Linked DNA regions of Homo sapiens: region 1 is linked to region 2. Evidence: fine-mapped expression QTL. Tissue or cell type: ileum. Region 2 holds a variant in brackets; the other region holds the start of a gene. All regions are shown on one strand. Distances are between the middles of the regions.

Evidence for each region. PIP is the estimated chance that this variant, and not a neighbour inherited with it, causes the effect.
Region 1: it holds the start of G0S2, and the variant in region 2 is fine-mapped to the expression of G0S2 in ileum (GTEx, PIP above 0.99).

What each region holds. Positions count from the first base shown.
Region 1 is chr1:209,672,319-209,677,446 of GRCh38, forward strand. G0S2 (G0/G1 switch 2) reads left to right here and starts at 3,094. Exons shown (of 2, transcript NM_015714.4): 1 at 3,094-3,231; 2 at 3,335-4,072. The coding sequence starts at 3,367. The coding sequence ends at 3,678. The region is part of intron 1 of HSD11B1-AS1 (HSD11B1 antisense RNA 1); the gene reads right to left. RefSeq lists enhancers at 686-925, 3,206-4,054.
Region 2 is chr1:210,410,382-210,415,583 of GRCh38, forward strand. All of the region lies in intron 6 of HHAT (hedgehog acyltransferase), which reads left to right. Among named protein-coding and RNA genes, the nearest start is that of HHAT, 84 kb to the left of the region's middle. The variant A/G (reference allele first, on the strand shown) is at 2,797.

The sequences.
Region 1 (5,128 bases), 740 kb before region 2:
AAAAAATTTCTAGTGCGGTAGTCTTAAAACTACAAATAGTTTTGTCATATCTCCTATGATGACTCCCTCCCTTCAGCTGCCTGGAGCCCCAGGGGTGGGCAGTGACTTTGTGTAGGCAGCAAGCAGCCGGTAACAAAATAATAATTATTATTGTTATTATTATATTATAATAATTGTAACAATAACAATTATTATTGAAGCTCATTTACAACTAACCATCCAAAAGACCTCTTTCCCCTGTGTCTTCAATCCCCAAGGCAGAGGGGTAGGGACAGTTCTATCCCTCCTCTGCACTTAACCCTTGAAACACATGCACCCCTTTGTGACTTTACCCTCTGCAGATGGCTCTGAATGTCTTAATGTCTGAGAGAAAGGGATTTAGAAAGCAAAATATAAAAATTTTAAACTAGTCCTTCCTACCTTCCTAGAAGTGGCAAGAGTTAAATGTTGAGATAGACTCAAGGGTAGGATGACTATTTCAGTTTGCCTGGAAGTGTTTCAGTTTGCCTGGAAGTATCTCAGTTTTAGTGCTCAGTTTTAGCAGGAGTCCTGCATTTCAGAGAACCCCTCAACCCTGAGCAAAATAAGATGGTTGGTCACCCTATGGCTTGGTTTGACCATCATCGCTATAACCTGTATCTTACCTGCATGCATGACACAACACAGTGCTTTACTTCCCTAAAAATGACATCAGCCCCACTAAAATATATGTTTAGTTTCCAAGCCCTACCTAGTCACCTTCTACCCTAGGAGCCAGGTTCTCTTTTCCCACCCAGACAGAGGAGCTGCACTCAGAAATTCCTAGACATGAGTTAACACTGGATTCCTTAGCCTTCTACTCCCATCATCTCCTGCTCAGCCCCAGCTACCACCTAAACTAGGAAGATCAAGTCTACCAGTGACCTCCGTCCATGGCACTTGCTGCCCCTCCTCTGTCCAGCTCTTACCAATATAGCTGCTGGAACCTGGAGGTCAAAGTCAAATTATCAAAAAAAGGAACTGAGCTGGTGATGTGCACTAACACAGCAAATCACAGGAAAGGGGAACCCCAGGTAAATTACAGCCTTCTGACCTAGGAAGACGTGTGGTTTGCGTCTCTGAGTTACAGAAACACAGGAAATGCTTACTGGACCAGTCAATTTCAGAATTTTGGGTCCCAAGCTAGGCTGACTCACCTTCAGAATGGAAACCACGTGACAGCCCTTATATCAGGGCACACATCACATGCTCTTCCAGAAGTCAATGGGTTTGGAACCCTCACAGATATTGGGAAAGCTCACTAATCATTTCTGCCAGTTATCAGAGGTTGCTCTGAAACTATAAGGAAGATTCAAAGAAAATGCCAAGACTGATATTAAACTTGGCAGGAACCCTTGTTACAGAATTTTCCTGCCTGACAAGGTTAAAAGAACAATAAGCAGGAAACACAGTCCTCCAGGAATAATCAATTCTATTTGGCCCCTGGTCACCTTCACTCAGACTAAATTCTAAAACATAGAATTTCAAATAAGCTATTTAGATAACCTTGACCATTCTCCACACACAAGCCCTTGCCTGAACTATTAATAGTCAAGGCAAAGGGTAGTTGTTATTGCTGCCTTTTTAAACTGAATCATCTGAGAAATTGCTTCAGACCCCCAAAGAAAGATTACTGTTAACAATTCAAAAACTAAAATATTTGATCCCTGAGACAGCCTTTTCCCCCGACCCGCCCTTCAGGGCTCAGTCCGACCGACTGCAAAGGCTGTTGCAAGATTGCATCACTGACCTTTGCAATTTTCTGGCCAGTTTGATTTCCCCTTCTTTCCCCTGCCCCCTCCCTTTCTCTGCTTAAAGGCCTTTGGCCAATTTGCCTCTCCTTTTCCCCAAGTTTGCTAACCCTTTGGCCAATTTGCCTCTCTTTTTCCCCAAGTTTGCTAACTCTAGCATATCCATAACCAAAGCCAAACTAGAACGCTCCCTCAGCCCCAGGTGATTACAGCTAACCCTGGTCAAAATCAATCCTACATCTTCACACGTCCAAGAGTACTCACACTCTGGATTCTTACCTAAGCTGTCTACTACACGCCCTTCTGCCCACAAACTGCTTCAAAGCTGAAGTTGAGCTGGAGCAGTGAAGTTGTACCCCCAAACCCAGGAGGGTGGCAGAGAATTATTGAGGAGAGCATGAAATACTTCCATTCTAAAATGGCAGATGAACTTCTACCAACAGCCCCTTCCATACTTGACCCCCTACCCCCAAGCTCCCAACTCCACTTCTCAAGTGGAAGTGAGAACAATTTGAATTTGAAGGCTCTTCCCTGATACACGGAAGTACATAAGGAAACAGCTCGCAGGCAAAGAGACTAATCTCTCTCTCTTTCTCTCTCTCTCTCTCTCTCTCTCTCTCTCTCACACACACACACACACACACACACACACCTCTGTGCATAAAAGCACCATCAATGAATAGTTTTCTATCAACTGACTCTAGTTATACATGCATGTACCTCTAAATAAAACCAACCAGGCAGGAAAGAAACAATATTAGCACATATTGCTTTATCCAAGCGTAACCTGTTCTGTCCTGTTACCCAGATCCTTCCCCCTTGCCTTCTCCTCTCTGATCCATTGCCACACACGTGGGAAGGTGACAACCCTTCCGAATAAAAATGAAAGCTTTCTTCTTTAGATGGAACCCCCAAATTCCCTCATTATTTATAATGTCAGGCTGTCCTGGACAAGGGAAGCTGTGCACCCGCTGACACCAGTAAGAAGGTTGCCGCCATGTCAGAGATGTCCGCGGACACCTCCCTGGGCTCCGGGTCCTCCCCTGCGCTCGCCTGGAGTGGGACCTTCGCGTGCACACTGGCCTTCCCACGCGCCCCGCTGCGATGGCACCCGCGCCGGGCCCCCTAGCTCACACAGTCGGAGCGTGCTCAGCGCGTGGCCACCTCCTGCCAGGTCCCAGCCGGGTTCCACCCCCTCCTTTTCCCCTCCTCTTCTTCCTCCCCCTCCGAGTTCCCCTGGCTCTGACCGCGCTGGCCTGGGCCGGAGAGCCCAGGAGGCGTGTCTCAGAGAAAAGATATAAGCGGCCCCCGGACGCTAAAGCGGTGCCAGCGGCGGAGTCTCCAACTGGGAGAGCTGCAGCTGCCGAGAGGAGGAGAACGCTGAGGTCGGTCGGACCAACGGACGCGCTGACCGCTGCCAACTGCAGCTCGCGCTGCCTCCTGCTCGCGCCGTGCCACTAAGGTAGTCCGCCTTTCTATGAGCCCTCCCCAAGATTAGCTGGGTGCGGGGTGGTGGGAGCCGTTCTTTGGTGGCTGAAGCCCCTCTCCTGCTGCTCCTCCTGCAGGTCATTCCCGCCTCCGAGAGCCCAGAGCCGAGATGGAAACGGTCCAGGAGCTGATCCCCCTGGCCAAGGAGATGATGGCCCAGAAGCGCAAGGGGAAGATGGTGAAGCTGTACGTGCTGGGCAGCGTGCTGGCCCTCTTCGGCGTGGTGCTCGGCCTGATGGAGACTGTGTGCAGCCCCTTCACGGCCGCCAGACGTCTGCGGGACCAGGAGGCAGCCGTGGCGGAGCTGCAGGCCGCCCTGGAGCGACAGGCTCTCCAGAAGCAAGCCCTGCAGGAGAAAGGCAAGCAGCAGGACACGGTCCTCGGCGGCCGGGCCCTGTCCAACCGGCAGCACGCCTCCTAGGAACTGTGGGAGACCAGCGGAGTGGGAGGGAGACGCAGTAGACAGAGACAGACCGAGAGAGGAATGGAGAGACAGAGGGGGCGCGCGCACAGGAGCCTGACTCCGCTGGGAGAGTGCAGGAGCACGTGCTGTTTTTTATTTGGACTTAACTTCAGAGAAACCGCTGACATCTAGAACTGACCTACCACAAGCATCCACCAAAGGAGTTTGGGATTGAGTTTTGCTGCTGTGCAGCACTGCATTGTCATGACATTTCCAACACTGTGTGAATTATCTAAATGCGTCTACCATTTTGCACTAGGGAGGAAGGATAAATGCTTTTTATGTTATTATTATTAATTATTACAATGACCACCATTTTGCATTTTGAAATAAAAAAACTTTTTATACCATATCTCATGTAATTCCTGAGAGGTGTGGTGTCCTGGGGTGGGAAGCAGGGAGGGTGAGCAGGTGGGCGATGGTGATGGGTTCTTACCTGAGCACTGCAGAGGGAGCAGCTTCCTGAGGGTCAGACACTTGCTTCACACCTAGGAACTGTGTAATAAGTTACTACATGCATATAAGTCTGTTGAGGACTTGTTTTTCCTTCTTGTTAGGGGTGGGAAGAGAGAAAATTTTATAACTTCCGTGAGATTTAGCATTTTAACATCAAAAGGTAGATCAACTTCTGAGCTACAGTGAGTAGGAGATAACTGATTAATTCTAAGGCAGAAAAGCTCTTTGTTCCTTACACCTGTGCACCAGAGGTTCCCATGGCTGATACCTTTTTCTTCCCAACTATATTTTAGACAGACAGACAGAGAGAAGGAAAGAAAATGAAGGAGGGAGGTCTGGAGGTGAAGGGAAGGAAAGAAAGGAAAAACTATCTACCTGGCAGGAAAAGAGATAAGCTCCCAAGAACACCAAAGCAGATGATGAGTCTAGCTCTACCCAGCCTTCCTCCCCACGAATCCAGATCATAGTAAGAAACTCTGGGCTAGAAAGAGAAAAAAACCGGTTGTTACATATCTGAGTCCTCCTCCTCCAGTGTACAGAGCTTCATCTGTAGTAATAGCTAATTCAGTGACTCTATAGGGCTCAGCAAAACAAATTTTAAACTTTAAAGAAGTAGCCAGGAGCCAGAGGCATGGCCTTGATGCTAGTCTCCTCACATTTTTCATGTCACCTGTCCTAATCAGGTACTGACACTTTACTCCTTTCATCAACAGCTATGCATTTTTGCCAAACATATCACTGGCTCACACCATTGCCTCTGCTCAGACTCTCTCCTTCGTCCAATGCCCTACACACATCTCCATTTCATTTCTGCCAACTCAATTCCTACCAAGTGTTCCTGGCCCTGATCAAAAGCCATCTCTTTCTGAAATCTATTCTTATCACTCCCAAAGGAAAAAAGCAATCAGAATGTGGTAAGATTAATCAAGGAAAAGAAACATATTTGGAGTTT
Region 2 (5,202 bases):
CTAGATTGCAGATGTAAATGGACTGTAATAATGATATGACCCTAAAGAAAGATGAAAAACCTTTTGTTTTTTTTTTTTTAAGTAAAAGCAAATAGAATGAAAGTTGGATTGTTTTTCTTTTGCTGTGTTGTTTATTTGTAAATTTTTTTTTTTTTTTTTTTTTTAAGATAGAGTCTCACTCTTCACCCAGGCTAGAGTGCAGTGGCACGATCTTGGCTCACTGCAACCTCCACCTCCCAGGTTCAAGCGATTCTCCTGCCTCAGCCTCCCGAGTAGCTGGGATTACAGGCACCTGCCACCACGCCCAGCTAATTTTGTATTTTTAGTAGAGACAGGGTTTGACCCTGTTGGCCAGGCTAGTCTTGAACTCCTGACCTCAAGTGATCCGCCCGCCTTGGCCTCCCTAAGTGCTGGGATTACACGCATGAGCCACCATGCCTGGCTTATTTGTGCAATTAATAAACATTTCTGTTGCTTGGAGCAGGGAGGCAGTCAGCACCAGAAAAGGAGTGTTGCAGAGAAAAGTCTAGTCCTTTTGGTCCTGTAGTGACATGTAATTATGCCTTATTATACCTGGTAGGGAAGTTTTAGCTTGTGAAAAGTAGGTAAGTCATTATTAAGAAGCCAATGCATGACAAAATGTACCTCATGATTTTTCTTAATTACAGATATTTGTGTCATTTTAGAATGCACATGTTTGAGGAGGGAAAGGAGGCCTTTGAATTCACCTTGAAACGTGATTGCCTGGAGCTGAGAGGTGATTGGGTGTCAGCGATATTTTCTTGATTATCTTGGGGGCTGTTGGTTCTGGCCTCCTCCTGGCTCCCTTCCAGTCCAGCTGCTATCTCTCCACTCCCTGGGATGGGGCTCCATACCAAATGCTGCTTGGAGGCCCGAGGTACTGTCCTGGCCTTCAGGGAACCTGAGCTTTGGGTAGGTTATGCTGAAGAGCCTGTAGGCCATATGCACAGTTGGCTTATTTAGAAACTGTAGACATTTGTCTGTGTGAAGATTATCTGCTGTCAACACTGCTTTTGAGGCCATTATCACGTTCAGCTAGAAGACTTGCTTCTCTCCAAGAGTTTGAGCAGGTTGGGCACAGTGATTTACACCTGTAATCCCAGTGCTTTGGGAGGCTGAGGTAGGAGGATCACTTGAGACCAGGAGTTCGAGACCAGCCTGGGCAACACGGTGAAACTCAGCTCTACAAAAAATAAAAAAAAATCAGCCAGGCGTGGTGGTACATGCCTGTAGTCCCAGCTGCAGGGGAGGCTGAGGCAGGAGGATTGCTTGAGCCAAGGCTACCATGAGGTAGGGTCACATCATTGCATTCTAGCCTGGGCAATAGAGTGACACCCTGTGTCATAAAGAAAAGAGTCTGGGTGCCAGGAAAGACCTGTCCATTGGTCTAGAGTGATTTTGCTGCCTCTACATGTCTTACATGCCTCTACATGCCTCTACATGTCTTAACCTTGGTGTGAACTCCTCTAGCCTCTACAGACTAATGGATAGTATGTATCTTAGTCCATTCAGACGGCTATAACAAAATATCATAAACTGGATGGCTTCTGAGCATCAGAAATTTATTTCTCACAGTTCTAGAGGCTGGGAAGTCCAAGATCAAGACACTGCCAGATTTGATGTCTGGTAAGGGCCTGCTTCCTGGTTCACAGGATGGTACCTGTCACTGTGTGCTTTTGTGGTGGAAGGGGTCTAACTCTTTGGCGTCTCTTTTATAAGGGTGCTATTCCCAACCATGAAGAATGCCCTCATGACCTAATTACTTCCTAAAGGCACCATCTCCTAGTACCATTACCTTGGGGGTTAGGATTTCAACATAGGAATTTTTAGAGGGATGTAAACATTCAATTAATAATATTTTGCCCCTGCCCCCTGAAAATTAATGGCCTCCTTACATGCAAAATACACTCATTCCATCCTAATAGCCCCAATAGTATTAACTTGTTCCAGCACCAACTCAAGTGTCTGAAATCCAAAGTCTCATTTAAATATCATCTAAGTCAGATGTGTGTGATACTCAAGGTATGATTCATCCTTATGCAAATTCCCCTTCAGCTGTGAGCCTGTGAAATCAAGCTCTGTACACCCAAATCCAATGGTGAGACGGGCATAGGATGGACACTCCAATTCCAAAAGGTAGAAATTGGAAAGAAGAAAGGAGTAAAAGCTCCTGAGGAAGTCCAAAACCTTAAGGCTCAGGAATCATCATGTTTGGCTCATTACTCTGCCCTCCAGGCCCACTAGGGTGGAGGTTTCACCTCTCAGACACACTGGGGTGCCTCTGGACACATGGTGGTGGGGAGGGGGTTATGCCTCCTGCAGATCACCCAGGCCAGAATCTTGAGCTGGTGGCTCTACTGGTCTGGGGTCATGAGACAGTGCCACCCTCATGGCTCTGCTGGGCCCTGCCTCTGTGCAGTTCTTTGTCTGGGCCCCATGGCTCTCTAGGCATTGTTAGAAATCTAGGTGGAGGCAGCCACACCCCCTCACAGCTTTTCTGGTTGCAGTGCCAACTACACTGCACTGGGGCCCACAGGAGCCACCCTTGGGGCAGCCAAGGAGTGTGGTGACGGGGAGTGGGGAGCAGAGCCCACAATGTGAGGCAGGACTGGGCAGTGACAGCCCCTCCTTTGCATCTGCAATTGCTTTGTCCCCCAGGCCTTTGCACTCTGGCCTGTGATGATGGTGGCAGCAGAGAGGGTCAAAATATTCACAGTATTATAATGTTACATTACTTTTTCTCTGACTGAAAAGAACCAATTTTAATTGTAAAAC[A/G]TAACTAAAATCTCACCATCCAAAGATTACCACTGTTGACATTTGGTGTATATCTTTCCAGCCTTTCATTATTTTATGCACATTGAACACAAATAGTTTTCATGACTGAATTCTCTTTGTGATCACTCTTCCATTGTCTTGGACAGGAGGTCCTGGCTTCTGTTTAAACAGCTGACTAACCTTATCAGGTGGTTGGTTGGCCACATTCTTGATGTTCTCTCCTGAACAGGCTTTCTCATTCTTGATAGTATGGAAAGGCTGAGAGTTTTCCAAATCTTTAAGTTCTGCTTCCCTTTTGATTAACAATTTTGTCTTTAAATCACTTTTCTCCTCTGCTGTTTTACTATAAACAGTCAAGAGGAGCCAAGTTGCACCTTCAACACTTTGCTTAGAAATGGCTTTAGCTAAATATCCAATTTCATTACTCACAAATTCTGCCTTCCACAAAACACTAGGATACGAACACAATTCAGCCAAGTTCTTTGCTGGTTCATAACAGGATTGCTTTTCATTCAGTTTTCAATACCATGTTTCTCTTGTCTAAGAAATCATCAGATTGGCCTTTACCATGCACATTTCCACCAACATTCTGTTCACTACTGCTCAGCTATTCTTTAAGAATATTGAGGCTTTCTCTGCAGCTCTTCTCCTTTCCTTCTGAGCCCTTGCCAAAATTTCCCTTAAAGATCCATTTACAGCAATGTATACTGCTTAAAGCATGCACCTCCAAACTCTTCCAGCTTCTATCCATTACCCCTTCCACACTACTTGCATATTTTTGGGTATTTTGTTACAGCAGCACTCCCACTCTTGGTACTGATTTTCTGCCGTAGTCCATTTGAGCTGCTGTAACAAAATACTATAAACTGGTTGGCTTATAAGCCACATAAATGTATTGCTCACAGTTCTGGAGTCTGGGAATTCCATGATCAGTGAGTTGGCAGATTCAGTGTCTGGTGAGGGCCCGCTTCCTTGTTCATAGATTGGCACCTTCTCACTGTCTTCACACGGTAGAAGGAACTAGCTAACTCTCTGAGGTTTCCTTGATGACAGCACTAATCCTAATCATGAAGGGTCTGCTCTCATGACCTAATCACTTCTCAAAGGCCCCACCTCCTAGTACCGTCTCTTTGGGGGTTAGGATTTCAACATATGAATTTTAGTGGGGCACAAACATGCAGACCATAGCAGTGTGTTTGTAATCATGTCTTCTTTTGCTAGTGGTTATTAGGTCAAAATGAACTTGCTTTGGAGAGCTGGAAAAGGGTTGAAAATGAACCAAGAAGAACTCAGTACATAGCTACAAAAAAAATCTAAGAGTGAAGGGGGAAGGAAAGGAGAAATAAAAATTAGTCTAGCATAAAACATGGAGAAGAATACTCACTCATAGAGGATGCTGGGCTTCCTGGCAGAAGTTCTGATGCCAGGCATTTGGAGAAGCAGGATGAAGAAACAGAGGGGTCTTGAGTACATTTGCCTCTCTAACAGAGAGGGCCCAAATATTCACAACATTGTAAGATCACATTACTTTTTCTCTGATTTAAAAAAGAACCAATTTGGCTGGGTGTGATGGCTCACACCTGTAATCCTAGCGCTTTGGGAGGCCGAGGTGGGCGGATCACTGGAGGTCAGGAGTTTGAGACTAGCCTGGCCAATGTGGAGAAACCCCGTCTCTACTACAAATACAAAAAATAGCCAGGTGTGGTGGTACATGCCTGTAATTCCAGCTACTTGGGAGGCTAAGGCACAGAAATAGCTTGAACCCAGGGAGGCAGAGGTTGGGGTGAGCTGAGATTGTGCCACTGCACTCCAGCCTGGGTGACAGAGTGAAACTCTGTCTTAAAAAAAAAATCTTTTTAATTGTCAAAAATAACTAAACTCTCACCATCCAAAGATGACCACTTTTGACATTTGGTGTATATCTTTCCAGCTTTGGATTATTTTATGCACATTGAATAAAAGTAGTTTTCATGACCATACAATATTGAGGTACACACATGCATTTAACCAACACCCTAGTGTTGGACATTTGGGTTATTTCCTTTTAACTTCTCGTTTATTAAAACAAACGTGAATGATCTGGCAGGTAGGTGTTTCTGCACTGAGGATTTAGTGATTGACTGGCTTGTAACAGATCTGCTGCCATAGACTTCGTAGGGTCTCTCAGAGCATGCATGCTTGAGGTAAGGATTCAAATGAAAACCATCCTCAGTTTATGCCCAGAAAGGGGTCTGCCTGGGGTCACTAGTGCATCTGTAATTGCAGTTAGGTCTGATCAATACAAGTCTGCAAATATCCAAGGATACCCAATCTTGCTTCTTGGAGAACTCAAATTCTGCTTCCTGTGAACACTAACCAGATGAATTCTCCAAAGCAATTACTGTTGTTTCTTAACAGTGCAGATTG